Regions from separate parts of the Homo sapiens genome. Here region 1 is linked to region 2. The links come from fine-mapping of genetic effects on gene expression. A gene starts in region 2. The other region holds a variant in brackets. All regions are shown on one strand. Distances are from middle to middle.

The links. PIP is the estimated chance that this variant, and not a neighbour inherited with it, causes the effect. A credible set is the group of variants that fine-mapping cannot tell apart.
Region 1: its variant is the best candidate, but not a certain one, in a credible set for the expression of NUBP1 in lung (TOPMed, PIP 0.77).

Annotation. Positions count from the first base shown.
Region 1 is chr16:10,762,673-10,778,190 of GRCh38, reverse strand. NUBP1 (NUBP iron-sulfur cluster assembly factor 1, cytosolic) reads right to left here. Exons shown (of 11, transcript NM_002484.4): 10 at 10,159-10,242; 11 at 8,840-9,144. The coding sequence ends at 9,086. It overlaps TVP23A (trans-golgi network vesicle protein 23 homolog A), which reads left to right. Exons shown (of 8, transcript NM_001079512.4): 3 at 3,095-3,239; 4 at 4,063-4,152; 5 at 4,750-4,878; 6 at 6,393-6,521; 7 at 7,860-7,919; 8 at 9,090-11,516. The coding sequence ends at 7,919. Among named protein-coding and RNA genes, the nearest start is that of NUBP1, 27 kb to the right of the region's middle. The variant G/A (reference allele first, on the strand shown) is at 8,634.
Region 2 is chr16:10,735,346-10,750,863 of GRCh38, reverse strand. NUBP1 (NUBP iron-sulfur cluster assembly factor 1, cytosolic) reads right to left here and starts at 7,022. Exons shown (of 11, transcript NM_002484.4): 1 at 6,982-7,022; 2 at 6,799-6,903; 3 at 3,588-3,721. The coding sequence starts at 7,000. RefSeq lists enhancers at 7,164-7,213, 13,107-13,156.

The DNA.
Region 1 (15,518 bases), 27 kb before region 2:
GGCTAATTTTTGTATTTTTAGTAGAGACGGAGTTTTACCATGTTGGCCACGCTGGTCTTGAATTCCTGACTTCAACTGATCTGCCTGCCTCGGCCTCCCAAAGAGCTAGGATTACAGGTGTGAGCCACCACACCTGGTGATCCTGTCTAATTCTTCTTTTATTTTTATTTTTATTTTTTTTGAGACGGAGTCTCGCTCTGTCACCAGGCTGGAGTGCAGTAGTACGATCTCAACTCACTGCAACCTCCGCCTCCCAGATTCAAGCAATTCTCCTGCCTCAGCGTCCCGAGTAGCTGGGACTACAGGCGCCCACCACCACGCTCAGCTAATTTTTGTATTTTTAGTAGAGACGGGGTTTCACCATGTTGGCCAGGGATGGTCTCAGTCTCTTGACCTCGTGATCCACCTGCCTCAGCCTCCCAAAGTGCTGGGATTACAGGCGTGAGCCACCACGCCCGGCTTGATCCTGTCTAATTCTTAAAAGCCGGGTGCACTTCCTGGGTTGGTTTTCATTCAGGTCACCAGGAGAGCCAAGAGCCTGAGAGGCTCAGATGAGACCCATCCTGGTGAATAGTTGGTGCTTTGCTACGCAAAAAAGTCACTGTGAAGTCTGCTTCTGAATCTTAACATTCCCCTGGGAGTCGGAAGCCCCACAGTTGTAGAGGCACCTGTGGTTTGTTGACTCGGACTCCGTTTCTTCTTGGGGAGAATGAGCAGGCGCTTTCCCCTGCAGTTCTGTGTGGATCTCTGTGACCACCCCATTCGGCCCCGCATTTTCCAAAGCCCACAACATTTTGTAACCTAATCCAGAGGTTGCAAGCTCACTGCTCGCAGGCCAGTGAGAAACACAGACTGATATTTCAGTAAAAGAATTAGTGGCCATCATTTAAAATCAGATTTCCCATTGCAAGTCTGGATTTCTGACTTCTCATGAAAATCTTGGCTCTGGCAGTACTGGGTCTGGTTTGCACAGCTGCCTGGTGCTGGGAAGAGTCCCTTTCATCCCTCCCTTTTCCTCCCCTGCCCTGAGGTGCGGGTTTCATTCTCATCCATCACTGTGTCAGAGGCGTGTGAACCAGAGCAACTCCATCTTGAATAGGGGCTGGGTAAAACGAGGCTGAGACCTACTGGGCTGCATTCCTGGACGGTTAAGGCATTCTAAGTCACAGGATGAGATAGGAGGTCGCACAGGATACAGGTCATAAAGACCTTGCTGATAAAACAGGTTGCAGTAAAAAAGCCGGCTAAAACCCACCAAAACCAAGATGGCCATGAGAGTGACCTCTGGTCGTCCCCACTGCTACACTCCCACCAGCACCATGACAGTTCACAGATGTCATGGCAACGTCTGGAAGTTGCCCTATATGGTCGAAAAAGGGGAGGCATGAATAATCCACCCCTTCTTTAGCATATCATCAAGAAATAGCCATAAAAATGGGCAACCAGCAGCCCTTAGGACTGCTCTATCTATAGACTAGCCATTCTTTATTCCTTTACTTTCCAAATAAACTTGCTTTCACTTTACTCAATGGACTTGCCCTGAATTCTTTCTTGGGTGAGATCCAAGAACCCTCTCTTGGGGTCTGGATCTGAAACCCTTTCTGGTATAACAACTGGGCTCGTGCCATTGATTTCCTGATCATAGTTGAGTATCGTTCTCTACCTGTGTGCTCTATTTAAACTGGGAAACCACAGAAAGAAACAGAAACCCACAAGTGTCTTCAGTCTGGCCCACATCACCCACTGCCATCACCTGCTCTATACAATTTGGTAACCTTTCTTTTCTTGTTTTTATTTTTTTATTTTTTTATTTTTTGAGTTGGAGTCTGACTTTCTCACCCAGGCTGCAGTGCAGTGGCGTGATCTTGGCTCACTGCAACCTCCGCCTCCCAGGTTCTAGTGATTCTCCTGCCTCAGCCTTCCGAGTAGCTGGGGTTACAGGCAGCCGCCACCATGCCCAGCTAATTTTTGTATTTTGAGTAGAAATGGGGTTTCACCATGTTGGCCAGGCTGGTCTTGAACTCCTGACCTCAGGTGATCCGCCCGCCTCGGCCTCCCAATGTGCTGGCATTACAGGTGTGAGCCACCGTGCCTGGCCTATATCAGACTTACATTAAAAAATAATAATAATAAAAAAAATAAGGCCAGGCGTGGTTGCTTATGCCTGTAATCCCAGCACTTTGGGAAGCCAAAGTGGACAGATCACCTGAGGTCAGGAGTTCGAAACCAGCCTGGCCAACATGTTGAAATCCTGTTTCTACTCAAAGTACAAAAATTAGCTGGGCGTGGTGGCAGGCGCCTATAATCTCAGCTACTTGGGAGGCTGAGGCAGGAGAATTGCTTGAACCCGGGAGGTGGAGGTTGCTGTGAACCGAGATCACGCCACTGCACTCCAGCCTAGGGGACAGAGCAAGACTCCATCTCAAAAAAAAAAAAAAAAAAAAAAGAAAAGCAATTTACACAGGATGAGCATGTTCCCCTTGGCTCCCTCTCTTCTTTCTGGCCAGGTTTGTGTCTAAAGGCACAGTGAACAAGAACCACCTTCCCCTAGATTAAATGCCAGGATTCACGTGCCATTCACCACTGAGCAAGTATGATGAGTTAGACCTGCCATTCACAGGTCACATGTTTCCCTCTGTCCAGGAACACGCATTCCCCGATGACATGAGACACCTGCCCCGTGGGCTGCGTGTGAGCTTGGAGCTCAGTGACTGGTGGTGGAAAAACCCAACCTTTACCTTTAGGGAACTGGCCGTCATCTCTGCTAGGCGGGAAGGCAGTGACTGCTGTCACGTTTCACTTCAAAGATGACCGTGTTTCGAAGAGGGCAAGTGATATTTGGAGTCAAGTGGCGGGAAAGTACTGGATTCTTCGAAGGGGAGGAAAAAAAACAGTGTCAGCATGACTGTCTGGGGACTGCTGACCTAATGATGTGTCCCCAGGGCTACAGCCTGAGTTTCTGCGTCATATGCACCGGGGAGAACATTCCATTGAGCCACGCTAACACCCCCAGCAAAGTCTGAAGTGGTAAAGGGAGTTCAGTGACCATCCGCTTAGCTCTTGGAGTGAGGGCGCCTTCTGGGTCCTTTCCTAGACACCCCTTGGCCACCTTTTTCCACCTGTTTTTCCGAGTGAGTGCCATCGTCACCTACGTGAGCTGCGACTGGTTCAGCAAGAGCTTTGTGGGCTGTTTTGTCATGGTGCTGCTCCTCCTGTCCCTGGACTTCTGGTCTGTGAAGGTGAGGCCCTTTCGTGTGATGTCATCACTTCCGAAACACGAGGCTTGTCCCCTGTGTGCGTGGTACCAAGAGGTACTTTGGTTTAGACTCCTGAGACATGCTTAAGAGTGCTGAGCAGTGTCACTTAAAAGTAAGGGGAATGGAGAAACCCCGTCTCTACTAAAAATACAAAAATTAGCCTGGCGCGGTGGTGTGTGCCTGTAATCCCAGCTACTTGGGAGGCTGAGGCAGAAGAATCACTTGAACCCGGGAGGCGGAGGTTGCAGTGAGCCGAGGTTGTGCCATTGCACTCCAGCCTGGGTGACAAGAGTCAAACTCTGTCTCGGAAAAAAAAAAAAAAAAAAAGAGAGAGAATGAGAGCCAAGTGAGAGGGGTTTCCCTTATAAAAACCATCAGATCTCGTGGCACTTATTCACTACCATGAGAACAGTGTGGGGGAAACTGCCTGTATGATTCAATTATCTCCCACCCGGTCTCCCCCACAACACGTGGGAATTATGGAAGCGACAATTCAAGATGAGGTTTGGGTGGGGAGACAGCCAAACCATATCACTTGTATACGAATTAATACATATATTTAAAACATATATAATATGAACATATAAATTATATATGTTTTGTGGGGGGAGTGTGTAACTTTTTAAAGTAAGCTTAGTTGAAAACTAGAAGTCTTGACATCTGAGAATCCACTACAATTCAAGGCCTTTTTTCTTCCTGCTCCCAGTACAAGTCTGAAATGAATCAAGGAACTTTTGTTTATCAATACAGTGAATAAGCCTCTTTGCCTGTGACCTGCTCAGAGTCCTTTGTCTATTGTTCTCAGAATGTAACCGGAAGACTCCTGGTGGGCCTTCGATGGTGGAACCAGATAGATGAAGATGGGAAGAGCCACTGGATCTTTGAAGCCAGGAAGGTATTCTCCATGACGAGCTGAACTAACCAGAGCGGGGATAATGGGTGTGGAAAGTTTCTGTGGGTTCCTTTGGAGTTTTGTGCATATCTGATTCCTGCCTTACACAAAAGCCACCATTGCCAAGGTGCTCTGGTGAAACATGGGTGTGGCAAAAGTGTCTCCAAAATAGACCGGGCGTGGTGGCTCACGCCTGCAATCCCAGCACTTTGGGAGGCGGAGGTGGGTGGATCACTTGAGGTTAGGAGTTTGAGACTAGCCTGGGCAACATGGTGAAACCCTGTCTCTACTAAAAATACAAAAATTAGCTGGGCGTGGTGGCAGGCACCTGTATTCCCAGCTACTCGGGAGGCTGAGGCAGGAGAATCACTTGAACCCAGGAGGCGGAGGTTCCAGTGAGCCAAGATCACGCCACTGCACTCCAGCCTGGGTGACACAATGAGACTTTGTCTCAAAAACAAAACAAAACAAAACAACACCAACAACAAAAAATCCCACAGCAACAAAAGCATCTGCAAAATAAAATAAATGAAAATGTGAGCACGCTCGTTTGCAACCATTTCCACTTGTTTTGACATTTGAATTACTTTCCTTTAACAGGTCTCTCCGAATAGCATTGCTGCCACAGAAGCTGAAGCACGAATCTTCTGGCTGGGCCTCATAATCTGCCCCATGATATGGATTGTGTTTTTTTTTAGCACCTTATTTTCCTTGAAGCTAAAGTGGCTGGTAAGGCCAGATCTTGACTTCCACATTGCTTTGATGTCTCTGCAAAAAAAGTGTTTGCACCACTAGGCTTTTGTTGTTATTTGTTATTGATTGATTGATCAATTATAACAAGTTTATTGAGATATAATACACATTCCATACAATTTACCCATTTAAAGTATACAATTAGGGGCTTGGCATGGTGGCTTACGCCTATAATCCCAGGCCTTTGGGAGGCCAAGGTGGAAGGATTGCTTGAGCTCAGGAGTTCGAGACCAGCCTGGGCAACATAGCAAAACCCCATCTCTGCAAAAAATGCAAAAATTAGCCAGGCATGATGGTGTGCACGCTTGAGCCCGGGAAGCAAAGGTTGCAGTGAGCCAAGATTGTGCCACTGCACTCCAGCCTGGGTGCTAGAGTGAGACCTTGTCTCCAAAAAATAAAATAAATACTAAGTGTGGAATTCAGTGGCTTCTAGTGCAGTCACAGAGTTGTACAGCCAAAACCACCATCAATGTTAGGAAATTTTCATCACCGGAAGAAGCCTTGCGCCCTTTTGACATTGCTTCCCTGTGCTTCTGTTCCTCCAAGCCCTGGCACCTATTAATTTTTCTGTTTCTGTGGATTTGCCTATTCTGGGCATTTCATATAAATGGACTCACACAGGCTGGCACAGTACCTCACATCTGTAATCCCAGCACTTTGGGAGGCTGTGGCAGGTGAATCACCTGAGGTCAGGAGTTTGAGACCAGCCTGGCCAACATGGCAAAACCCTGTCTGTACTATAGATACCAAAATTAGCTGGGCGTAGTGGCACACGCCTGTAATCTCAGCTACTTGGGAGGCTGAGGCAGGAGAATCGCTTGAACCCAGGAGGCGGAGGTTGCAGTGAGCCAAGATCGTGCCACAGCACTTCAGCCTGGGTGACAGAGTGAGGCTCCGTCTTAAAAAAAATCAATAAATAGAGAAAACAAAATATTTGTAGATAGTAAAACAACAGTGTCATTTAATGAAAGTGCGGGCCCTGGAATTTGGATCCCGGCTCGACCACGCTCCAGCTCTGTGACCTTGGGCAGCTTTCGTCTTCCTGAGCCTCAGTTTCCTCTTTGTAAAATGGGATGATGATGGTGGCAACCTCTCCAGTTGTAATGATTCTGAGGTGTCCGTGGGTATTTGCAAATGCTCAGTAAATGTTGGCTGTTACTATTCTTAGGTGCAGGCTAGAGCATTTCTACGTGGCTTGAGAGGTGCATTTCTGTAAATGCTCTTAGAAAGTGACCTTTGCGTCAGATGGAGACCATCCTGGCTAACATGGTGAAACAGTGTCTCTACTAAAAATACAAAAAAATTAGCCAGGCCTGGTGGCGGACGCCTGTAGTCCCAGCTACTCGGGAGGCTGAGGCAGGAGAATGGTGTGAACCCGGGAGGCGGAACTTGCAGTGAGCTGAGATCGTGCCTCTGCACCCCAGCCTGGGCGACAGAGCGAAACTCTGTCTCAAAAAAAAGTGACCTTTGCTTTCTTTGTCTGAGTGCAGGCTCTGGTGGTTGCTGGGATCTCTCTCCAAGCTGCAAACCTGTATGGCTACATCCTTTGTAAGATGGGAGGCAACAGTGACATTGGCAAGGTCACAGCCAGTTTCCTGTCCCAGACAGTGTTCCAGACGGTGAGTAACTGAGGTCTGACTCTTGGACCACTCCTCTCCAGGTAGTCAAAGTCAAGGTGGCCTGCTGGCAACTGCGGTTTGTAATGTAACATATCCGCCAGGCTGCCAATGTTTTATTGTTTATATATTTTTTGGGAGACAGGATCTCGCTCTGTCACCCAGGCTAGAGTGCAATGGTGTGATCGCGGCCTATTGCAACCTCCATCTCTTGGGCTCAAGCGATCCTCCCACCTCAGCCTCTGGCACAGTTGGGACTACAGGTGTGTACCACCATGCCTGGCCTTTTTTTTTTGTAGAGACGAAGTTTTGCCATGTTGCCCAGGCTGCTCTAGAACTCCTGAGCTCAAGCAGCCCGCCTGCCTTGGCCTCCCAAAGTGCTGGGATTACAGCCATGAGTGAGCCACTGTGCCTGGCAGTTTTGTTTTTTAATTGTAAGATTTACATAAAATGTACCATTGTAACCATTTTAAAATGTATAGTTCTGTGGCATTAAGTATAACCACTTTATTGTGCAACCTTCACCCCACCCAGCTCCAGAACTGCTTTCATCTTGCAAAACTTAAGCTCAGTACCCACAAAACACTAACTCCCCCTCCTCCTCGCCTCCTAGCCCTAGCAACCAGCATTCTGCTTTCTGTATCTATTGGTTTGACAGCCCTAGGGACCTCCTATAAGTGCAATTATAGTTTTTGTCCTTTTGTGACTGCCATTGTTAGTTTTCAGTGATTTTTAAAAGTATAGAATTAAGGAAAGAGTCACAAACGGTTTTTCAATTTTTTTTTTTTTTTTTTTTTTTTTTTTGAGATGGGAGTCTCACTCTGCTCCCAGGCTGGAGTGCAATGGCATGTGTTGGCTCACTGCAACCTCCGGCTCCGGGTTCAAGTGATTCTCCTGCCTCAGCCTCCCAAGTAGCTGGGATTACAGGTGCATAACACCATGCCTGGCTAATTTTTGTATTTATAGTAGACGGGGTCTCTCCATGTTGACCAGGCTGGTCTCGAACTCCTTGCCTCAAGTGATCTACCAGCCTTGGCCTCCCAAAGTGCTAGGATTACAGGCGGGAGCTACCGTGCCCAGCTTGTTTTTGTTTTGTTTTTTTTTTTTAACTTAATAGATATTTCTAAAAGTGAGAGACAGAAGTCTTTGAAATTTGACCAGGTTCATCCTGAAATGGGTAGAACCGTCCTAAATTTGAACAGCACTGCTTTATGCCAAGACATCAAGCAACCAATTCCGCAGGTTTTCTGTACTTTGTGGGTTTTCTCTGGCCTTCCATCAGCAGGATCGCCCCACTCGCGTGTAAGGACAGAAAACCATGGTTGACTTTTCCCCTTGCAGGCCTGCCCAGGTGACTTTCAGAAGCCTGGCCTCGAGGGGCTGGAGATTCACCAGCATTAGGTGAGAAATGGATCATGGCACCCGTGTGGAGGAACTGGGGAATTCTGAAAAATGCAGCTCTTGGGGCACAGGGGCCCGGGGTCTGGGTGGGCTTCCCCTGTTCCCTGGGGTGGCCAGGCATGTGACCAGGCAGGAAGCAGACTGGGCAATGGGCCTGCCCTGGGCTTTGCAGCCTCATTGCTCTTGGCGTGAGGAGCTGGGGGTCGGGGGGCGAGGTCACACCTTCCTCACACTGAACATGTGCAAATCTGATCATATGTATGGTCCTAGGGAAGGGCGGGGAGGGAAGAGACAAGGGAGGGAAAGAACAAGGGGATTTGTTCTTGTTTCCCACCCACCCACTTTTATGCCCCAGAGTGGAGGGAAAACAGGAATTTACTCTTCTCCCACGTGGTCTCAGATCCTGTGTGTCTCAAACAGAGCAAGCACCTCATGGCAAAGAGGATGATCGTAGAGTTTACATCTGTCCCTCTTTTTTATATAATTAAAAAACCTGAAAGTTGGTTTGCATGACACTGGACATTACTGGATATACTGTGCACATATTACTACACAGGGAATTTACACAGACCCCACATTCTGTCTTACTGGGTGATTCAAGGACTCTTCAAGGGCTTTTTGATTTGACCCAGCTGTGTCATATGCAGTGATTTTAGAACGAAGCCCAGCCTGAGCTCTGTTGCTTTTAGATTTTTCCTCAATCTGAAGAAAAGC[G/A]TTTGGACTGTGGTGTTTGAAAACAAGCCTGTGTGTTCTGCAGTGAAGCCGCACACTCACCCCTTTGGTTCTTTTCTAGGCTTTCTTATCTTCACAGGCAGAAATGGCTTAAACGGGAGTTTCTACAATCGACTAAGCTTCCGACACAGCAGAATCCCACGATCCCACAACCCATTTGTTTTTTACGTGAAACAGGCCTCGGGGGAGAGATTTGAGGGGGTTTTATTCTTAAAACGGCACATTTGTAGAGAATGCCCTTTATATATGTTCTAAAGAAAAGTGTACAAATACTCAATGATTAAAGTGTCTCTGAGAAAGTGGCTTCGGACCACACCAGCATCTGGTCCTTTTGCTGTGACCCACCCCATCCCGGAGCTGGTCGGGTCTGGCTGGATGTGCTGCCCAGTGAGTGCCTCGCTCGGTAACTGCTTGGTCCTGAACATTCTCTCGTTTCAGGAACTGATGAGGTTCTCTTCTTTTGACTGATGGAGATTACAAAACTCTTGGATTCCTGGAAAACAAGACGACAGGCATAGAGTGCTAATGGCTTGTCTACCCCTTGACAGCCCTGTCCTGTGCTGGGGAGGGCTGTGTTTTGACAGGGGTGGAATCCTCTGGCTAGTTCCATAAAAAGACCTGTGTCTGTGATGCCCTGAGTCTTTGAAAGTGACCGGAATACCTCACACTACCCATCTTGCTCATAACCAGTGGCTGCGGCCTTCCTCGGACCATCTATAGATGGAGGATTCTGGGAATGCTGTTTCCTTACCCTTGACATCATTCTTCTAGGCAAGTAAAACCCAGCCACAAACTCAGAGACCACAGCTTTAACAAACACTGACACCTCTGCCCTAACTCTGGGGCCTCTGATGGCTGCCACTGGCTGAATGTGGCCTGCACGTGGGTTTGGTCTGGCTCAACAAAGTTTTTATTTTTATTTTTTATTTTTTTGAGACACGGTCTCACGCTGTTGCCCAGGCTGGAGTGCAGTGGCGCGATCTCGCCTTACTGCAGCCTCCGCCTCCCAGGTTCAAGCGATTCTCCTGCCTCAGCCTCCTGAGTAGCTGGGACTACAGGCATGCGCCACCACACCCGGCTAATTTTCATATTTTTAGTAGAGACAGTGTTTCTCCATGTTAGCCAGGCTGGTCTTGAACTCCTGACCAGCCTCAAGTGATCTGCCTGCCTCCTTCACCCAAAGTGCTGGGATTCCAGGTGTGAGCCACTGCACCTGGCCTTTTTTTTTTTTATCAGTTACTTTTAAAAATGAATTACTTTATCCCTTTATTGGGATGTATTTCCTAAGCCATAAATTTCACCCTCACCATGTTTTTTAAACTATGAATTAATTCACAATACTCACACATTGAGAGATTTCTCATGGACTCCTGGCTTCCTCGGCTATGGGGGCCACTCTGTGGTCATCACAGACCCCACCACCCACCTGTCCTTCCACACCCCTGGCTCCTTTATGTTGCTTCCTGCCCCACAGGCATCTGCATTTAGTACTCATGGAAATACTTACTCTGAATTATACTTCTGTAGGCTAACGTGGCTGGGGAATCTGGGGCGTCAATGAAAAAAGACTGGCCTTTGTCACAATTCTTACCTTAAAAAAGAAACAAACGGAAGACAATTCAGTCCAAGAGGAAAACAGAATGGCCACAAGATCTTGGGGCTCTTTCCGTGCTGGTGACAATGGGAAGATCTTGAGCCCGCTTCACTCGTAATGAAGAACAAAGTAGAAAAGACCAGTGGGGTCTCAGGGACCTTCCTTCCAGCAGGGTCCCCAGCCAGCATTTCAGCGTGGCTAAATAATCAGGTGGTGTACAGAAAATGCAGGTTCCAGGGCCCTACAGAGAACTGATTCAGCAGCTTCCACATGGGCCCAGGAGTCTGCATTTTAAGAGATTAGCTTTTGAGTGAAAGGATCATGAATGCACATGGTTAAAAAAAGTACAGAATGCAAAAGGATATGGCATAAAAGGCCAAGTCCGAAAAGGGCTACTAGTGTTCTAGGTGTCTTTCCAGAAAGATTATGCGCATATAAATGTGCACACTTGCATGTGTGCGCACACACATACACACACTCTCATATACCTAAAATACGAATGGGAGCACATGACACACACATTCTGCCTGCTGCTTTGTCTGTGTATAATTTTATCTTCCAGGTCATCTGTGCTGGTGTCTATCAGTCTGCTAGTCTTTCCCCGCCATGTGGCCATTGTTCCAGTCCCCTCCTATGCACACCCAGGTTTCTCTAGGACCATGTTATCCCAGAGCCAGGTGGACAGGACACAAGGGGCTAGGGGTCAATGGGGGTGTTCTCGCCTCCAGTCTGCCCTGCCAGCCCCCAGTCGTGGGTGGACCTGCCATCAGCTTGCTCTGCCCACTCCCCAGGCCTGAGCTGCTGGCGAAACAGGCAAGTGACTGCACTGCCCATGGCCGGTCACCAGCCTCAGGTGAACCCCAGGAGGGGTTCCTACCTAGCACTCATCATTTCCTCAACTTCACTACTGTGTCGCCCTGTGGGACAGGGAAGTCCAAGTCGGGGAAGAAGCCTGTGGGGAGGGGTTGGTGGGAGATGGGGAGCCCATATGGCCCAGTGAGTCAGGAAAATAGGGTCCAGAGGCAGGGAACATAAGGCCAATTCGCACTTGAGCCATAACAGGAAATGTCCTCTCCATAGGACGTATGCCGTAAATGACTTTGTAACTTTACTTCATCCTTTTCGTTTATATAGGGCGTACCTCAAGTAGAGGGTATTTAAACACAAAAACTCTGTAATGGGGCCTTTGAGCCCCTATTCTCAGGCCCGTTCTCCTCCCACACCGTGGAGTTGACTTTCATTTTCAATAAATCCCTTCCTTCCTTCCTTTCTTTGTGCGTTTTGTCCAATTTTTTGTTCCAGACACCAAGAACCTGGACATCCTCCGCCGTTAACGCTGGGCCCATGAGACCATGTGGAACTCGCTAGGGAGGCCCCTGAGTGCACGTTCGCTGGGCCAGACCTGGGAGGTTGGGGATCCCAGAATAGTCATGCTGGGGCTACTTTCTGTCCCTGACTTTCACCCAGGTCTCCCTTCCCCAGAGGGCTCCCCAGCCCCCAACACACATATATGCTCTAGTGTTTTCCCTTCCTAACTGCATTTCCCCCTGGGCTCCCACCTCTCCAAGAACGGGCAGCATTATCAGAACAGCTGGTGTGAGCACAGCCCTGTTCCAAGAGATCCCAGGCATCCTCTCACCCCACCCTGGCAGATCCCTCTCACTAGGCACCACTGTCACCTGCATTTTACACACGGGGCCATCGAGGCTGAGAGCGGAAATGACTAGCCCAAGTCCCACAGCTAGTGGTGGCGGAGCAGGGCTCTGAGGCCAGCCCTTCCTGTGATCCTCAGCACACCGGGACCAGGACCCATAGCACCAGAGCGCTGGCATCTGTAACTCTTTGCCACCATGTCCCCAGAGGAGACTGAAGTGCTGTCCTCATGCCTTCCTGTCTGTTCCTAGGAAGGTGGGTTTTCCCCCACTCTGTCCCCAGTGACCTTGCCAGATGCGTGTCTGTCACTTGGCCCTCATGCTCCACCCTCTTGGGTGGGTGACAGTGTTAACCACCCCTTCCTTTCTGGCACTCCCTGGCCTTGCTATCTGTGGCTTCCCCTCAAGGTGAGCTTCTGCAATGTGCCATTTGACACACAGGACCATGCCCACTAGAAGGCACTTAATGTTCTCAGCTCAGAATGAGCCTCGCAGCTGTCACTGGTGGCTCCTCTGCTTTGAAATTAGCTCTTGTGAACCACCTGGAACTTTGTTTCTTTGTGAAAAGTGGCCCTGAAAGGAAAGACCAGGGCCAATGCCAGGGCTTGGTGTGAGGGAGGTGGGAAGATGGAGGTTGCTGGCTCTTTGGAAGAAAAGCCGTATCAGGATCTAATAGCCCCAAGGTCACTTCCTGATCTGTCAGACAATGGCAAGGGCAGGCCTGTGGCTGGGCCCGTGGACATATTTGGGTGGGTCAGCAAGCATGCCATTTTTAAATTTTTTTTTGAGACAGGTTCTTGCTCTGTCGCCCAGGCTGGAGTGCAGTGGTGTGATCATGGCTCACTGCAACCTCAACCTCCCTGGGCTCAAGTGATCCTGCTAACTCAGCCTCCTGAGTAGCTGGGACCACAGGCACATGCCACCACACTGGGTGAATTTTTTCCTTTTTTTTTTTTTTTTTTTTTTAAGAGATGAGGTATCTTCCTGTGTTACCCAGGCTAGAGCATGGTTGTGTGTGTGTGTGTGTGTGTATTTAATGGAGTTAGTTGCTATCATTTAGTATCAGGAGACTTTGGGTAAGGATATAGATTTCTAGCTCTTCATTAAACCTTGGAAAATGTGGCAATTGTGATGGCCATAAGGACACACCTCTTGGATCTCTGGCAGCAGCTGCCATGCTCCAAAATCCACCACCACGTTTGTGTTGAGGCAATGCCACTCCCAGGCTGCTCCTAGCTAGTGACTGAGACGAGCATGGCACTCGGGCAGGCACGCTTCTGGGAGATGCAGCCCCTCTGATGGGTAAGTGGGCTCAGGAATGCCCTGGTGGCTGTGCCCAGCTTTCCTCGACAGCAGCCAAGACACTCCAGCAGACAGATGCTCCAACAGACTGACATACTCCAGCAGACTGAGATGCTCCAACAGACTGACATACTCCAGCAGACAGATGCTCCAACAGACTGACATACTCCAGCAGACTGAGATGCTCCAACAGACTGACATACTCCAGCAGACTGAGATGCTCCAACAGACTGACATACTCCAGCAGACTGAGATGCTCCAACAGACTGACATACTCCAGCAGACTGAGATGCTCCAATAGACCTACTCCAGCAGACTGAGATGCTCCAATAGACTGACATACTCCAGCAGACTGAGATGCTCCAATAGACTGACATACTCCAGCAGACTGAGATGCTCCAATAGACTGACATACTCCAGCAGACTGAGATGCTCCAATAGACAAATACTCCAGCAGAATGAGATGCTCCAATAGACAAATACTCCAGCAGACTGAGATGCTCCAATAGACTGACATACTCCAGCAGACTGAGATGCTCCAACACACTGGCATACTCCAGCAGACTGAGATTCTCCAATAGACAAATACTCCAGCAGACTGAGATGCTCCAACAGACTGGCATACTCCAGCAGACTGAGATGCTCCAATAGACTGCCACACTCCAGCAGACTGAGATGCTCCAATAGACAAATACTCCAGCAGACTGAGATGCCAAAAAGCAAAGTACACTGAGGTGCTCCAGCAGGCTAAGATGCTCCCATGGGCTGAGATGCTCCAGTGGGCTGAGACGCTCCTTCGGGCTGGGATGCTCCCGTGGGCTGAGATACTCCTGTGGGCTGAGATGCTCCTTTGAGTTGGGATGCTCCCGTGGGCTGAGATACTCCTGTGGGCTGAGATACTCCCTTGGGCTGGGATGCTCCAGTGGGCTGAGATGCTCCTTTGGGCTGGGATGCTCCCATGGGCTGAGGTACTCCTGTGGGCTGAGATGCTCCTTTGAGTTGGGATGCTCCCGTGGCCTGAGATACTCCTGTGGGCTGAGATACTCCCTTGGGCTGGGATGCTCCCATGGGCTGAGATGCTCTTGAGGGCTGGGATGCTCCCTTGGGCTGAGATGCTTCCAGGGGCTGAGATACTCCTATGGGCCGTGATGCTCTTTCGGGCTGATATGTTCCTTCCCCCACTCCTTCATCGTGGGCTAACGCTCTCCCTTGTCATTTTCTCCCACAGATGTTTCCCCTGACAAACGTCCTGCCCACCAATCCCATCTCGGCAGAGCTGAACTGTGGCAGAGGTGCAGGCTGGCAGGAATGGATGTGCCCTGGGCTGCTGCAAGCTCCTGTCCCCAATCACATCCATTCATGCAGCCCAACTGCCTCCAGGGGCCTCAGAGGGCAGCTCTCATCACCACTTCCGGCCACTGCAAAAGCTGCCTGGTGAGTGTTTTATGATGCTGGGGAAGGTTGAGAAAGCAGCTGTACTTTTCTGCATGTTGTTGGGGAAATCACATGCCAGAGAAGTATTGTGGGATGTGGGAATAAGGGAAAAAGGATTTGGGGACACAGCCTCCTGGGCACATGGGGTCTCTGGCGTTCTCCCGGGCTGTTCCCATCTTCAGAGTGGCCCTCGCACCCTACCCCCCTACCACTTCCTCGAGGCAGCCATCCCCCAACACTGTCCTCCTGGCTCCCGCTTTCTGCACGGCCCCTTGGCAATCCTGTCCATGTCCTGTGGCTTCAAAACTCAACTGCACGGACATGAACCACCTTCTCCTGACGGACCCCAGAACCTGCTGACAACCTGAGCCCCCGAGCCCCTTAGCCGCAGCACCCCAGAGGGCCCGGCCTCCCTCTACCACCCCTGCTTCACTGTCTCTGAGGGACGGACCCTCCTCCAGGTGACTTGTACTGGCAGCAGGGACAACCTTGACCCTCAGATGCCGTCACTTTCTCTCTTGTGTGTGTCCCTTCCTTTCTACACCAACGCCAGAACCCAGGGCCTCATCCTGAACCCCTATCCCAGGGCAGCCACTCCTGAGCCTCCTGTTCCCAGGCACATGACACTGACAGTCGTTTCCCACAGGCTCCCATTCTCCCCATGCAGCCCTTCCCCAAGGCTCCCCACGTGGCCTCCGCCCTCCCCGCCTCCAGGCTCTCCACGGGCCCCGCCCTCTCCCCAAGCACGCGGCCCCCACCCTCTCCTGGCCAGGCCATACTTCACCCGCCCGGCCCCTCTCTCCTGTCCCGGCACAGACACCTCACACTGGCCTTGGTTCCCTGACAAATGGAGTGGAAGTTCCGAGGCATGGGTGCAGCCGGCAC
Region 2 (15,518 bases):
GGAGATGCTGCAAGGCTGTCGGGACCCAAAGCGTCTCCTTTACTCAGCACCCCAAACTGCCCCTGATGAGGAGGGTAGGGGAAGAGGGATTTAGTCCTAACTTTTAGTCCTTGCACAAGTTGCTTCTGCTTTCGAAGCCTTGGCTGTCTGGGCTTCTGATCTGTGAGACAACTGCTCCGGGGTCATCAAGGCCCCTCTCAGCTCTGCAGTCCCAGGACCCAGAGGAGGGCCTCGCACACTCAGTCCTGAAACACCTAGTGCTGACCTTGTTATGACAGTTTGCCTTTCAGATCACAAAGATCATAAATGTTTAATTTATGGTGGCTGGGTGTGGTGGCTTACGCCTATAATTTCAGAACTTTGGGAGGTTGAGGCAGGCGGATCACCTGAGGTCAGGAGTTCGAGACTAGCCTGGCAAACATAGTGAAACCCTGTCTCTACTAAAAATACAAAAATTAGCTGGGTGTGGTGGCACACGCCTGTAATCCCAGGTACTCCAGAGGCTGAGGCAGAACTGCTTGAGCCCGGGAGGTGGAGGTTGCAGTGAGCTGAGATCACACCACTGCACTCCAGCCTGGGCAAAAGAATGAGACTCCGTCTCAAAAAAACAAACAAAAAAAGTTTAATTTATGGAAGTTGGTGACTTGTTATTTATTCATTGTTTTTGAGGTAGAGTCTCACTCTGTTGCCCAGGCTGGAGTGCAGTGGCATAATCACGGCTCACTGCAGCCTTGACTTCCCAGGCTCAAGTGATCCTCCTACCTCAGTCTCCTGAGTAGCTGGGACTACAGGTGCTTACCACCACACCTGGCTAACTTTTTTTATGTTTTATGTTTTGTAGAGACAGGGGTCTCACTTTGAAGCCCAGGCTGGGAGTCGGTGACTTTTGCAGTGGAAGACAGTGTATGACTCTTGGCTGTCTCATGGCTCAGGCTTATGCTACAGAGGCTCCTTCTGCCTTCACCACAACTTACACACTCCCTGGGCAGCCTGTGACTCGTCAGGGGTGTTTTCTAATTCTGCTCTCTCTTGATCCAAGGCCCTTTGTGCCAATGAGATGACAGGCGCCTGCCTGCCTCAAGCGCTAACATGGAATGGTCTTGCACAGAGTTAGAGCCAAGCTTCCACCAGATGGCAGGCAGAAAAAGGTCAGGGCATGTCCCACCACCCTGCTGGATTTAGGGCAGGGAGAAATCTGTGCTGCTTGACTTTAATCAAGACATATTCAGCATTTTCCATGTGTTGACACTTTGCAGATAGTGATGTCACTGTCATGAGTAGGTCTGCCTGGGGAAAACACACTTTCCTAAATGCTGACTTCTTTTTTTTTTAAACCACCACTGCATAAAAAAATACAGCTGATCTAGCCATATTTCCACACTGAATGGTGTGCTTTCCTTCTGTATACTGCAAAGTCTAGACAGGCATGCAGCAAAGACTTCAGAACGTAATTACATGAAAGTGAAGGATGTAAACAGTTGTCTACTCACAAGTGGTTACTTGCAAGTGGTGAGATGAAAGCCCATCTCCAGTGAGCTGTTTAGGAATATTCCTGACAGCTTCGAAAAGCAAAGATTCTTCTAAACGATACAGACAATCTGAGAAAGCAGATTTCTTGGCCAGCCCACTAGGCCAGTACAGATTTGACCCTCAAATGGCAAGAGATCGCTGACTCACAGAATGACGAATCAACGTGTGTGTGTGTGTGTGTGTGTGTGTGTGTGTGTGTGTGTGTGTATGTGTCTGTGTATCTATCTATATCCTTTTTTTTTTTTAAATGGAGTCTTGTCTGTCACCCAGGCTGGAGTGCAGTAGGGCAATCTTGGCCCACCGCGACCTCCGCCTCCTGGGTTCAAACGATTCTCATGCCTCGGCCTCCCGAGTAGCTAAGACTACAGGCACGTACCACCATGCCCAGCTAATTTTTGTATTTTTTAGTGGAGACAGGGTTTCACCATGTTGGCCAGGCTGGTCTCAAACTCCTGACCTCAAGTGATCCGCCTGCCTCAGCCTCCCAAAGTGCTGTGATTACAGTGTAAGCCACCATGCCCTGCCCAACAAGTGTATTTTGAATCTGCCCAGTACTATACCTTGGGTAGGCTACAAACTCATCTCTAAGGCAGATGTAATCATCATCCCTTCATATCCAGAGAGTGAAATAAAGTAATAAAAATGGTGGCCATCACAGACCTTTACTGAGCATTGACTATTCGTCGGGCCCCGTGCTAAGTGCTTTACTGTGCCATCTCACTCAGTCCTTGGAGTCCCATTTTATAGATGAGAAAACGGAGGCAGAGTAAGCCTGGTAACTTGCCCAAGGTCACAGCAGTGGTGTAGATGGAGCTGGGACCTGAGTTTGGGCTGTCTGACTCCAGAGTGTGTGCTCTTAGCGACCCACCAACCCCTTTTATTAAAGTTGAGATCCAGAGGGCAGCAGTGGGTAATCTGAGTTTTCATGCTCGTCTGTATGCATGGGTGGAAATGAATAAACTCGTGTAAGGGCCAGCAAAAATTTTCCACAAGGGCCAACAGCAAATATATTATTAGGCTTTGTGGGCAAAATCAAGGATCATATGTAGGTACTTAGGTACTAATTTAAAAATTGCAATTTTAGGCCAGGCACGGTGGCTCATGCCTATAATCTCAGCACTTTGGGAGGCCGAGGCAGGGGGACGCCTTGAGTTCAGAAGTTCAAGACTAGCCTGGGCAACATGGCAAAACCTCATCTCTACAAAAAACCCAAAAATTAGCCGGGCATGGTGGCAAGCACCTGTAGTCCCAGGTACTTGAGAGGCTGAGGTGGGAGGATAGCTTGATGAGCCCAGGAAGTAGAGGTTGCAATGAGTCCTGATCATAGCAATGCACTTCAGCCTGGGTGACAGAGTGAGATCCTGTCTCAAACAAACAAAAAACATTTCAAAAATGTGAACATTCTTAGTTCAAAGGCCATAAGGCAGGAGATGGGCTGGATTTGGCCCACTGGCTATAGTTTGCAGGTCCCTGGCTTAGAGAAAAGCTAAAAGGGGTTAATAAAGAGGAAAAAGAAGCGTGAACGTAATGTAATAAACTATCCACATGCAAGGACAGATGTACATCTGCTAGCCATTTTCTTGGCTAGGGAATCCAGTGAAATGCTTCATTTGACTACTGGGCATTTCTTTGCTCTCTGCCGGATTGAGATTCCAAAGAGGCCAATTCAACTTAGTATAAGGAATCATTTTTTTTTCTTCTTGGACAGTCTCATTCTGCCACCCAGGCTGGAGTACACTGGTACAATCTTGACTCACTGCAACCTCTGCCTCCTGGGCTCAAGCGATTCTCATGGCTCATCCTCGCGAAAAGCTGGGATTACAAGCCTGCGCTACCACGCCCAGCTAATATTTTGTATTTTTAGTAGAGACAAGGTTTTGCCATGTTGGCCAGGCTGATCTCAAACTCCTGGCCTCAAGTGATCTGCCCGCCTTGGCCTCCCAAAGTGCTGGGATTACAGGCATGAACCACTGCGCCTGGCCTAGGAATCAGTTATTTAGTAGCCATCACGACCCTCAGACAAAATGAGCATCTCCCAGTGGTTCCTGAGGTCTCACCTGTGTGTTTTCATCCTCTGCTAGGCCATGGGCAAGGTGGGCGCTGAATGTGCTTTTCCCAACACCGCCTTTCCCAGACAATACCAAGATTTTGTGTTTTACAGTCTTCATTTTCTCTTTGATTTCCTCTATAGCTGCAAAGAAAACCAAAGTTCAGGGGATGAGGTCCCACACCAAACCTCGAATGTCACGCTTCCAGTCAACTAGAAAGAGCTAAGTCCTAGTCCTAGTACTAGTCCTGGGGCTGTTTAAAACGATCCTCTGAAATACCTCTCAGACAATGGTAGAAATAAGTGCTAGGAAGAAAATAAGGCTATTATCACACTTGAAGGGGTCTCATTTATTGGTTTACACGTTTGTCTCCCCCAACTAGAACATAGTCTCCACAAAGGTAGGAACTGTCTGAAGCTTTCAGTGCTGTATTCCCAGCTCCAGAAGAGAACTTTGCAAACAGCAATGGTCACCAACTTGGGGACAAAATCCCCCAGAGACATTTGGTAATGTCTGGAGACACTGTTCTTTCTTTCTTTTTTTTTTGAGACAGAGTGTTGCTCTGTCGCCCAGGATGGAGTGCAGTGGCGTGATCTCGGCTCACTGCAACACTGCCTCCTGGGTTCAAGCGATTCTCCTGCCTTAGCCTCCCAAGTAGCTGGGATTACAGGTGCCTGCCACCATGCCTGGCTAATTTTTGTATTTTTAATAGAGACGGTGTTTCTCTATGTTGGCCAGGCTAGTCTCGAACTTCCAACCTCAAGTGATCCACCCACCTTGGCCTCCCAAAGTGTTGGAATTACAGGTGTGAGCCACCATGCTCAGCCTGGAGACACTTTTCATTGTCACAGGAGAGGTACTGCTGGCATTTAATGGGTACAGCCCAGATTGTGCTAAATGTCCTACAATGCACAGGACAGCCCCCCACAACAAAGAGTGATCCTGCCCCAAATGTCAGCAGTGCTGAGGTTGAGAAACTCTGATAGACAGCAGGCACATACTAAGTATCTGCCAATGAAACTATCTTATTTCAAATCCTTAAAACAATACACGAGGTATAAAGGAAATTAAAAAGTCTCATGACTGGCCAAACTCAAGTGAAAGTTAAGCCTGGAAACCTCCCAACACTGCTGTCCTCCTCCCCATCAACAGACAGCTGTTACTTCCCAACCTTGTGTCAAAGCATTCTACATTAACCAGACACCTGCAAAAGGCCAAAGGCCCCATGCAATCCATTGTGGGATGACTGCCCTCACAAGTTGCTCCTAAGGAACTCCTTTGCTGGCCCCTAAATCTTTGAAGATGAGTATCCTCCCATAAACAAGGACATGCCAACTGTAACTTTAGGACTGTAACCTCAGTCTAACTCCTTCCCTATTACTGATGTCTGTTAAACGCCACACTGACCATGTCCATTACAAGCTTATCCTCCCACATGCCAAACAAAGATGGGATGAGATAGTCCTTCCTCTCCTACCCTGAGACGTCTGCCTAATTAATTCTTCCTTTATTCCCTCTTTTGAATGTTTACTTTATTTTCTGAATAGTGTAGATATACTGGGCACGAATTAAAACCTCACAAGAATGTAACTACCTGCCACGAGGCCTACTGCACTTTTTCCTGCATGCTTTTTCCCCTTTTAATGAAATATATAAACACCAGCCTTCTGGAACCACTCCATCGAGCACAGGCCACAGATGTTTCTGTCACTTGTATTTTCCAGGGCACGCCCTCAAGCTCTGGCCCAATAAACCTCCACTGAGGCTCAGTTCAGTCTCTCCATTGCATTGACAGAGATAACTATTTTTCTCTTCATTTTTTTTTTTCTTTGAGACAGGGTCTCACTCTGTCACCCAGGCTGGAGTGCAGTGGCACGATCTCAGCTCACTGCAACCTCCACCTCCCGGGTTCAAGTGATCCTCCCACCTCAGCCTCGAGGGCGGGCATGCACCACCATGCTGGCTAATTTTTGTATTTTTAGTAGAGACAGGTTTCACCATGTTGGCCAGGCTGGTCTCGAACTCCTGACCTCAAGTGATCCATCCACCCGCCTCGGCCTCCCAAAGTGCTGGGATTACAGGCGTGAGCCACTGCACCCGGCCTGTCTCCATTTTTGATGAGGAACCAGAAGCTCAGAGAGGTTAGGACTATTGCTGAAGGTCACACCGCATGGATCCAAGAATCAAATCCAAGTCTCTCTCTGAACTCCTTCAAGATTCTCCCCCTTGGCCAGGTGCAGTGGCTCATGCCTGTAATCCCAGCACTTTGGGAGGCCCAGGCAGATGCATCACTTGAGGTCAGGAGTTCGAGACCAACCTGGTCAACATGGTGAAACTCTGGTTCTACTAAAAATATAAAAATTAGCCAGCCGTGGTGGCAGGCGCCTGTAGTCCCAGGTACTCGGGAGACTGAGGCACGAGAATCGCTTGAACCTGAGAGGTGAAAGTTGCAGTGAGCCGAGATCACACCACTGCACTCTGGTCTGGGCTACACAGCAAGACTCTGTCTAAAAAAAAAGGGGGAAAAAAAAGAAAAAAAAATATTGTCCTCCTGCCTCCTGCTTTTTAAGGTCCTTCTGAGCAGGCTCCCTGGGTCCTCTCATCCTGGAATCTGTGCTTCACAGCACTTAAAGCTGCGGTGGTTTAGTTGCTAGCTCACGTGTTTGTTTCCCCAGTAAAGCTAAACTCCACTAGAGCAGTGACCACGCCTGATCCCCAGCTGTGTCCCCAGGACAGCACCAAACCTACGAGGCGATCAACACATTTCTGCTGAATGAGTGGGAGAATCACTCCTCAAAAGGAAGAAAATTGTGTCAAGAAAGTAGCTGGCAGAGCCAGGATGTAAGTCCGAAGACTCCCCGACTTCGAAGCTTATCCCGTTTTTCTCTGCGGTCTGTTATTGTCACTCAAACCTCTGGCCCCGACCCTCTTAATTAATGTCCCTTTCGACTCCGCGCCGGTCAGTCTCCACCCTCCATCCGCGCCAGGTCCTTCGCGCTCGCCTTCTAAAGGCCTCGTTCCTGTCAGTCATTCCAAGCTCCGCCCTCACCCTGCCCACTTTCCACGCCCCGCCCCTTCTGGGCCCCACCCCTCTCCGAATACAATACCTTCTAGCCTGCCGCTGTCAGTCATTCTGCAGATCCCGCCCCCTCCCTCCCACGCCCCGCCTTTTCCGGGCCTGCGCCTCTAAGTTCCTGTTGAGGCCTTGCCCTTTTCTCACCCGTGTCCGGAGTGGCCCCCGCTCCAGAAGCGCACAGCCGCTGGTTGGGGCATCCCTGACATGAAGCCCCTCTGCCCGCCTGGGCGCTGTCGGCCCCTGGACAGTCTGCGCAGAGACAAGACCACAGTTAGAGCAGCTCCCGACACTTTCGCCCCGCGACCCACGCCCCCTCCGCGAGCTTACCGTGAGGCACCTCCTCCATTCCGTCGCCTTTGCCGCCTTCGTGGTCACCGGAACCCGCTGTCGTACATTTCCGCCTTGTGGGCACAATCTGATTCTCCGACCGCGCGAAATAAGTCTCGGAAAGGGGGCTGTGCGCACGCGCGAACCTTGGGCCGAAAGACTGGGACTCAACGTCTGTTCCTTTTCAGAGATTTCCTATCATAAATACTTCTGCAGTGCATCTCCTAAGAACAAAGCCATTCTTCATGACATCAGTGCCATTTTCATACCCAAGAGATTTAATATCGATGCAGTACTAGCCAATGCAGTATTAGCCAATAGACAGTTTATATTTCAATTTCAGTTGTTAGACCCCCTCCCCTGCTGGATTCACTCACTGCCTGGAGTTATTTCTCTTCGGTCTCCTTTAATTCAGATCAGTCCTTCTTTTTTTAGGGGGGGTCTCATCACCTTGATAATTTTGACGGGTCCAGACCAGTTGTGTAATAGAATATCCCATATTCTTGATTTGTCTAATCCTCCCCTCCCTCTTGCCTTGTAATTAGATAAAGGTTAATTTTTCTTTTTTCCTGCAGAACACACTTGGATAATGTCAGTTTGTCCCGTTTTTGGTAATGTGAAGCTTGATCGCTTGCTAAAGGTGGTGTCTGCCCCATTTCTCCATTTAATGTTTCCTTCTTCCATTTGTAATTAACAGGTACTCTCTGGGACCATCTTCTTCTCTATCAGCCTTTCACTCAGTGATTTTAGCAGCATTTATATATATATATATAAAACTATAGATTATATATATGATAAATATATATCAGTTTTATACCCTCTCTTTTTTTCTTTTTTTTCGAAGACTCACTATGGATTCCTGGATTTTTTAAAATTGTCTTTTATAATCAATTATTATTCTTTCTGGTCGATTTTTTTTCCCCCAGATGTGGCCAGTGAAGCCCCTTCAAGACAGTTCTTATGTTCTTTGGGCACTAATCCAGCTTCTTTGAGCATTTTCTTGCTTTCTGATACAAGATGTTTCAGTCATCCCTTCTCCCTGCTGCAGTCATTTCTTCAGGGAGCCTTGGTTACTTTTTAGCAGACAACAGTTCAGAAACCAAGATGTGGATGCCACAAATGCTCATTGCTACTGGAGTGTCATTGCTCACAGGTTTGGCACCTGGAATATTAATGAGTGAACAAACTTTACCTAGCCCCAGACACTAAGAATATGGAAACGTTTATTTATTTATTTATTTTTGAGGCGGATTCTCGCTCTGTCACCCAGGCTGGAGTGCAGTGGTGGGATCTCGGCTCACTGCAAGCTCCGCCTTCTGGGTTCACGTCATTCTCCTGCCTCAGCCACCCGAGTAGCTGAGACTACAGGCCACCACGCCCGGCTAATTTTTTGTATTTTTAGTAGAGACAGGGTTTCACCATGTTAGCCAGAATGGTCTCGATCTCCTGACCTCGTGATCTGCCCGCCTTGGCCTCCCAAAGTGTTGGGATTACAGGCATGAGCCACCGCACCCGGCCTCGGAAACATTTATTAAACAGCAGTGTATCAGCTGCCTGTCACTACCACTAATTATAGCCAGCATTTTGTAGAATACTTACCGTTTGGCAGCTGTCATCTTTGTGCTTTCATGTGAATTACCTAATTTATGTCCTTTCATAGTCCTACTGTCTCCATTTTTGGATAAGGAAACTGAGGCTTAAAGTAAACTACTTTCCCGAGGTCGCATGACTGGTAGCAGGGGAACCAGGGTGATAAACTTGGTCTGTCTGGCTGCAGAGCCTGCACTTAGTAACACATGGTCCCAGCCAGCACTGGGCTAGATGCCAATGATTCCAGACTAACCTGGACCCTGCCATCTGGAGCACAGTCTGGTCGGGAGAAGAGGACCAGAGTGATGGGGCATCAGCAAAGGCCTGGAGAGCAGAGAGGAAGTCACCTATCAGGTAGGGACTGTTGTCATTTCCGTTTTACAGGTGATAAGATGGCTGCAAAGATTTACTTGTCCACAGTCTGAGAGGCAGAAAGAGCAGAACTGGGTTTTTAACCAAGTCTGATACAGGGCCTTTGCTATTAATCACTATACTGTATATTAGAGGGCAGGATGCAAGTTATTCTCCTTTTTATTTTTATTTTTGTGGGATGGAATCTCACTCTGTTGCTCATGCTGGAGTGCAGTGGTGTGATCTTGGCTTACTGCAACCTCCACCTCCCGGGTTCAAGCAATTCTCCTGTGTCAGCCTCCTGAGTAGCTGGGACTACAGGTGCCCACCACCACGCCTGGCTAATTTTTTGTATTTTTGGTAGAGACGGGGTTTTACCATGTAGGCCTGGCTGGTCTCGAACTCCTGACCTCAGGTGATCCACCCGCCTCAGCCTACCAAAGTGCTAGGATTACAGGTGTGAGCCACCGCGCCTGGCCAGGGCCGCTTCTTAAGGTGAGTGCTCCCCAAGACTCTGTTCTTGGGCCACTTCCAGTCCCACTTCCCACTTCCTCCTGGGCAAGCAACTGACAGCCCTGATGCTATCCATCTTCTGTCTCCAGCTCCCACACCTCTTGCTCCGTGAGTTCGGATCTGTGGATCCTACCTTGTGCCTATTGGATTTTATTGCATGGACATCCCACAAGCGTAACAAATAAACGTCTACAACTTCTTCTCAAGGCGGTTCCTGCCTCTGGATTTGTTATACCTGGACAGGGCATGACCCCTGGGCTAAGAACTCAAGCCGTAAATCTGAGTATCAGCCTTGTTTAGTTTTCTCCATCTCCATCAGTGATCAAGTGCTGTGTGACAAGTCACCCCAATATGTAGTGGTTTAAACCCACCATGGTTTATTGCTTCCTGTGACTCTTCTGGTTTCACCTGGGCTCCCTTAATGTGGCTTCATTCAGCTGGGAGTTGGCTGGAAGGTCTCAAATGGCTTCACTCTCACACTGGCCTTGATTCCCCCCTCGTGGCCTCCCTCTCTCATTTTTCAGTGGTCTAGCCTGTGTCCCTTTAAATGGCAGCTGGGAATGACAAAGCTGGGAAGTGGCAGTCACTTTCACCATGTTCTCTCGGTCAAAGTGTCACAGACACAGACTCCTCTTGTTGATTAGTGGGGTGGCGTACCTATACAGGGATGGGGGTCAGTGTTGTCCATAGAGACGCCCACAGCACCCCCTGCATCCAATCAGACATCAGGTCAGCAGCTGCACCCCTAGGTGGTAGGCTGGTAGCACACATGACCCCACTTCTCTCCCTGTCTGGATCTGTGCCCTTGGCTGCTGAACTTTGCAGTGCCCTCCCACGTGCGGGGAGGGGGTTCCATCCTACCCCTTGACTCTGTGCTCAGGCATGTGACTTACTTTAGCAAATGTGATTCAAGAAAAAGCTTGTAATGGGGCTTTTGCCTGTTTTAATCCCTCTCCAGCTCCCCTGCCACTTAAAGGTACACAGGCTAGGAGAAGGTCTGGGCTCGCCCATGGGAGGTGAAACACCTGGAACTGAGCTGAGCCACCCCTGTGCTCTCAGTGAAGGCCTCCTAAACCAGCGGCCCAAGACACATGAGAAGAGTCCAGCCAAGAGCTGCAGATCCACCCACCCAGACCCACAGATCCACCCATCCAGACCCACAGATCCACCCACCCAGACCCACAGATCCACCCATCCAGACCCACTGATCCACCCATCCAGACCCACAGATCCACCCATCCAGACCCACCGATCCACACATCCAGACACACAGATCCACCCATCCAGACCCACCGATCCACACATCCAGACCCACAGATCCACCCATCCAGACCCACAACTGGCCATAGATGCGTGAGTCCTGAAGAACCACCTGGCCAATGCACAGGCTGGTGAACTAGCTAAATGCTGGTGGTTTGACACTGTTGAGTTTGGGGTAGCTATAGACAACTGACACTCCATGCCTTCCAGCATCCCTCCTGCCTCAGCTCAGGCCCCCTCCTCCTCCTGGTCCTGCAACAGTGTCTGTTTCAGCCAGGATAGGCTAGTCTGCGCTGCCAAAACAGACATCCCCAAACTGAAGTGGCTCAAGGCAATCAAGTTTATTTTGGCATTTGCTCCATATGTAACTTCATGGACAGAGGTTCCTGCTCCCTGTGGTTCCTCAGGGACACAGACTGAAGCTCCACCGTCTCCTGTGGCCCCTTTTGAACACAGAGGACACAAGCCAGGGGAATTGTACCCTGATTCTGAAATGCTTCCACTAGAAATGACACCTATCTGCCCACTTTTCATTGGCTACAATTAGTCACACACGTCAGGTGCAGTGGCTCACACCTGTAATCCCAGCATTTTAGGAGGCCAAGGCAGGAGGATTGCTTGAGGCCAGGAGTTGGAGAACAGCATAGTGAGACCCTGTCTCTACAAAAAATTTAAAAATTAACTGGGCAAGGTGGTGCATGCCTGTAGTCCCAGCTACTTGGGAGGCCGAGGCAGGACGATTGCTGGAGTTGGAGGCTGCAATGAGCTGTTATCACAGTACTGCCCTCCAGCCTGGGCAGCAGAGTGACACCTTGTCTAAAAAAAAAAAAAAAAAAAAAAAAAAGGCCAGGCGCGATGGCTCACGCCTGTAATCCCAGCACTTTGGGAGGCCGAGGCGGGTGGATCACCAGGTCAGGTGTTCAAGACCAGTCTGGCCAACATAGCGAAACCCTGTCTCTACTAAAAATACACAAAAAATTAGCTGGGTGTGGTGGTGTGCGCCTATAATCCCAGCTACTCAGGAGGCTGAGGCAGGAGAATTGCATGAACCCGGGAGGCAGAGGTTGCAGTGAGCCAAGATTGTGCCACTGCACTCCAGCCTGAGTGACAGAATGAGACTCTGTCTCAGAAAAAAAAAAAAAAGGTTGGGCGTGATGACTCATGCCTGTAACCCAGCACTTTGGGAGGCCGAGGCGGTTGGATCACTAGAGGTCAGGAGTTCAAGACCAGCATGACTAATAGTGTGAAACTCCGTCTCTACTAAAAATACCAAAAATTAGCCAGGTACAGAGGCGCATGCCTGTAATCCCAGCTACTTGGGAGGCTGAGGCAAGAGAATTGCTTGAACCTGGGAGGCAGAGGTTGCAGTGACCCGAAATCACACCACTGCACTCCAGCCTGGGCAACAAGAGCAAAACTCTGTCGCAAAAAAAAAAAAAAGTCACATGGTCATGCCTAAAAAAGTATAGGAAGTACAGTTTTATATGACTGGAAGTGGAGGAAAACCAGATATCCAGGATCACAGTGATGTTTCCCACAGTTCCCTGAATTGTTTCTCAGTCTTAACATTCTTTCCCCATGAAAATCAGACCAAGTCACTCTGCTGCTCATAAACCGTCAGTGGCTCCCTATGGCCCACAGGATAAGGCCCAGTTTTCATATGGTGTTCAGTAGCCTGCATGACTCATTTTGACCCTTCCAGCCTGAGTGTCACTGAGAATATCGAGTCTATTCACTAAACAGCTGGCCTTTGCCTGGCACCCTAGTTCATTGCTGTCACTCACACAGGCCCTTCTGCCAGGAAAGGCCACTGCCTGTCTCTCGCCTATCTGGCTGTGGCCCAGTCCTCTGTGACAGGCCAAGTCTCAGCAGCATCTCCCCATGGAGGCCATTCCTGGCCTGCGGAACTGAACACACTGCGTTCCAGAAGTCTGAGCACGGTTTTCCATTCTAACAACTTCCGAAGTATGAATGCCATAAACTTAACAAAAATTAGCATTTGAAATTTTGTGTAATTTTCCTTTACACTTACTTAGTTCTGTGATTTTGAAAGACTAGATTTTAAATTTAAATTTAAATTTTTTTATTTCAGTTCCTCTGACTGAAGATGGTGAATAATGACTAAAAATGAAAGTTAAATTTACAAAGCTAAGTAAGTGCCAAGGATTTAAATAGACTTCAAAATAATTTTAAAAATAAATTAGTAAAACTATAGAGTCCGAAGATCAGGGTTGCTAGGAGTTCAGCGGGTGGGAGGGGATAAGGGGTAAACGGGAGCCCAGGGAACTTTTAGGGCAGGGAAGCTGCTCTGTGTGACTATGTAATGGTGGATGCATGTCATTATGCATTCGTCAAATCCCATAGAACGTACGACACCAAGAGTGAGGCCTAATATAAACCATGGGCTTTATTTAATAATAATGTGTCAATATTGGTTCATCAACTGTGACAAATGTACCACACTAATGCAAGATGTTAAAAATGGGGGAAACTGGGCAGGCGTGGTGCCTCATGCCTGTAATCTCAGCGCTTTGGGAGGCCGAGGTGGGTGGATCACCTGAGGTCATGAGTTTGAGACCGGCCTGGCAAACATGGTGAAACCCTGTATCTACTAAAAATATAAAAATTAGCCGGATGTGGTGGTGTGCGCCTGTAGTTCCAGCTACTCGGAAGGCTGCAAGGCAGGAAAATCGCTTGAGCCTGGCAGGCGATCTCACCACTGCCCTCCAGCCTGGGCAACACAGCGAGAATCTGCCTTACCAAAAAAAAAAAAAAGATTAGTGGATGAAACAAGACTAAAACCTGGTTACAGCGGCTAAAAATTTCAGCCAGACAGGGGCACTTTAAATATTCAAACAAGGTCAGCGAGCACCCTTAGAAAACACAGGAAGTGCCTGCGGTTCCTTAGTTATACCAGCAGGTGGAGCTCTCCCCCCACCTATGATCAAGGTACTCAGGCAATGGAAACAAAATTAAGTTTAGGTGTAGAAAATTTTCTGCTTCTTCCCTGGGATCCGGCAAATATAACAAGGGGCTATATACACACCAGGTGTTCAACACATAATTGAGTCGAAAAACAAGGCTCAGATGCATTATATAGAGAGAAACTGGAAAGGACGTGGATCCTTGAATGCCAGGTGTTCGCATTCAGGCTCCCTGTCTCAGTTTCCGTCTCTGAAAAATGTCAACAATAATATTCAAGGAATTATTGTTGGGAAGATTAAACAAGTTAATGAGTAAAACAGTTTTTTAGAGTGTCTGGCACTTTCAAGCCCTATATAGGTGTTAGTAATTATCAGTTTATTTCTTTTTTTAATGAGACAGAGTTTCGCTTTGTCTCCCAGGCTGGAGTGCAGTGGCACAATCTCGGCTCGCTGCAACCTCCGCCTCCCAGGTTCAAGCGATTCTCCTTCCTCAGCCTCCTGAGTAGCTGGGATTACAGGTGCCTGGCACCACGCCCGGCTAATTTTTGTATTTTTAGTAGAGACGGAGTTTCGCCGTGTTGGCCAGGCTGGTCTCGAATTCCTGACATCAGGTGATCCATCCGCCTTGGCCTCCCAAAGTGCTGGGATTACAGCCGTGAGCCACCACTCCCGGCCGGTTTATTTCTTAAGCTGCTTTGTTGAGGTATACCTGATATACAACAAACTGCACATATTGTAAGTATACAATTGCCAAGTTTTGACATATGTATGTACCCAAAGGTTTCCTTGTGGTCCGCTCTTGTTCTTTAGCAATCACTGACCTGTTTTCTTTCACTGTAGATTAGTTTGGATTTTCTAGAATTTTATATAAATGTAATCATACAGCATGCACGCTTTTTAATTCAGCTTCTTTCACTCAGCATATTTATTTTCGTTTCATCCACATTGTTGCGTGTATGAAGCTCGTTTCCTCTGGTTGCTATGTGGTATTCCATTGTATGATTATACTAGTTTATCTGTTAATGGACATTTGGCTGTTTCCAGTTTTGGGGTGTTACAAATAAAGCTGCCGTGAGCATTTTTGTGCAGGTCTTCATAGTGACGTGTATCTTCATTTCTCTTGCTTAAATACCTAGGAGTGGAATGGTAGATGTGCATTTAACTTTTAAGCAACTACGAGGCCGGCACGGTGGCTCATGCTTGTAATCCCAGCACTTTGGAGGCCAAGGCGGGTGGATCACGAGGTCAGGAGATCGAGACCATCCTGGCTAACTCAGTGAAACCCCCATATCTACTAAAAATACAAAAAATGAGCCGGGCATGGTGGCCTGTAGTCCCAGCTACTCGGGAGGCTGAGGTGGGAGAATCGCTTGAACCCAGGAGGCTGAGCTTGCAGTGAGCCGAGATCGCACCACTGCACTCCAGCCTGGGCAATGGAGCGAGACTCTGTCTCAAAAAAAAAAAAAAAAAAAGAAACTACGAAACTGTTTTCCATAGTGATTATGCATATTCACCTGCAGGATATGAGACTTTTAACTGCTCCATATTCTTGCCAGCAGTGGGTACAGACAACCTTGGATTTTAAATATTTCAATAGATGCATAGGTTACAGACAACCTTGGATTTTAAATATTTCAATAGATGCATACTGCTGTATTATTGTAGTTTTAATCTGCATTATTTTAATGACTGTGTTAAACATCTTTTCCTATTTATTTATTTATTTATTTATTTATTTTGAGACAGAGTCTCACTCTGTCCCAGGCTGGAGTGCAGTGGCCCAATCTCTGCTCACTGCAAACTCTGCCCCCCAGGTTCAAGTGATTCTCATGTGTCAGCCTCCCGAGTAGCTGGGATTACAGGCATGTGCCACCACACCGGGCTAATTTTTGTTTTTTA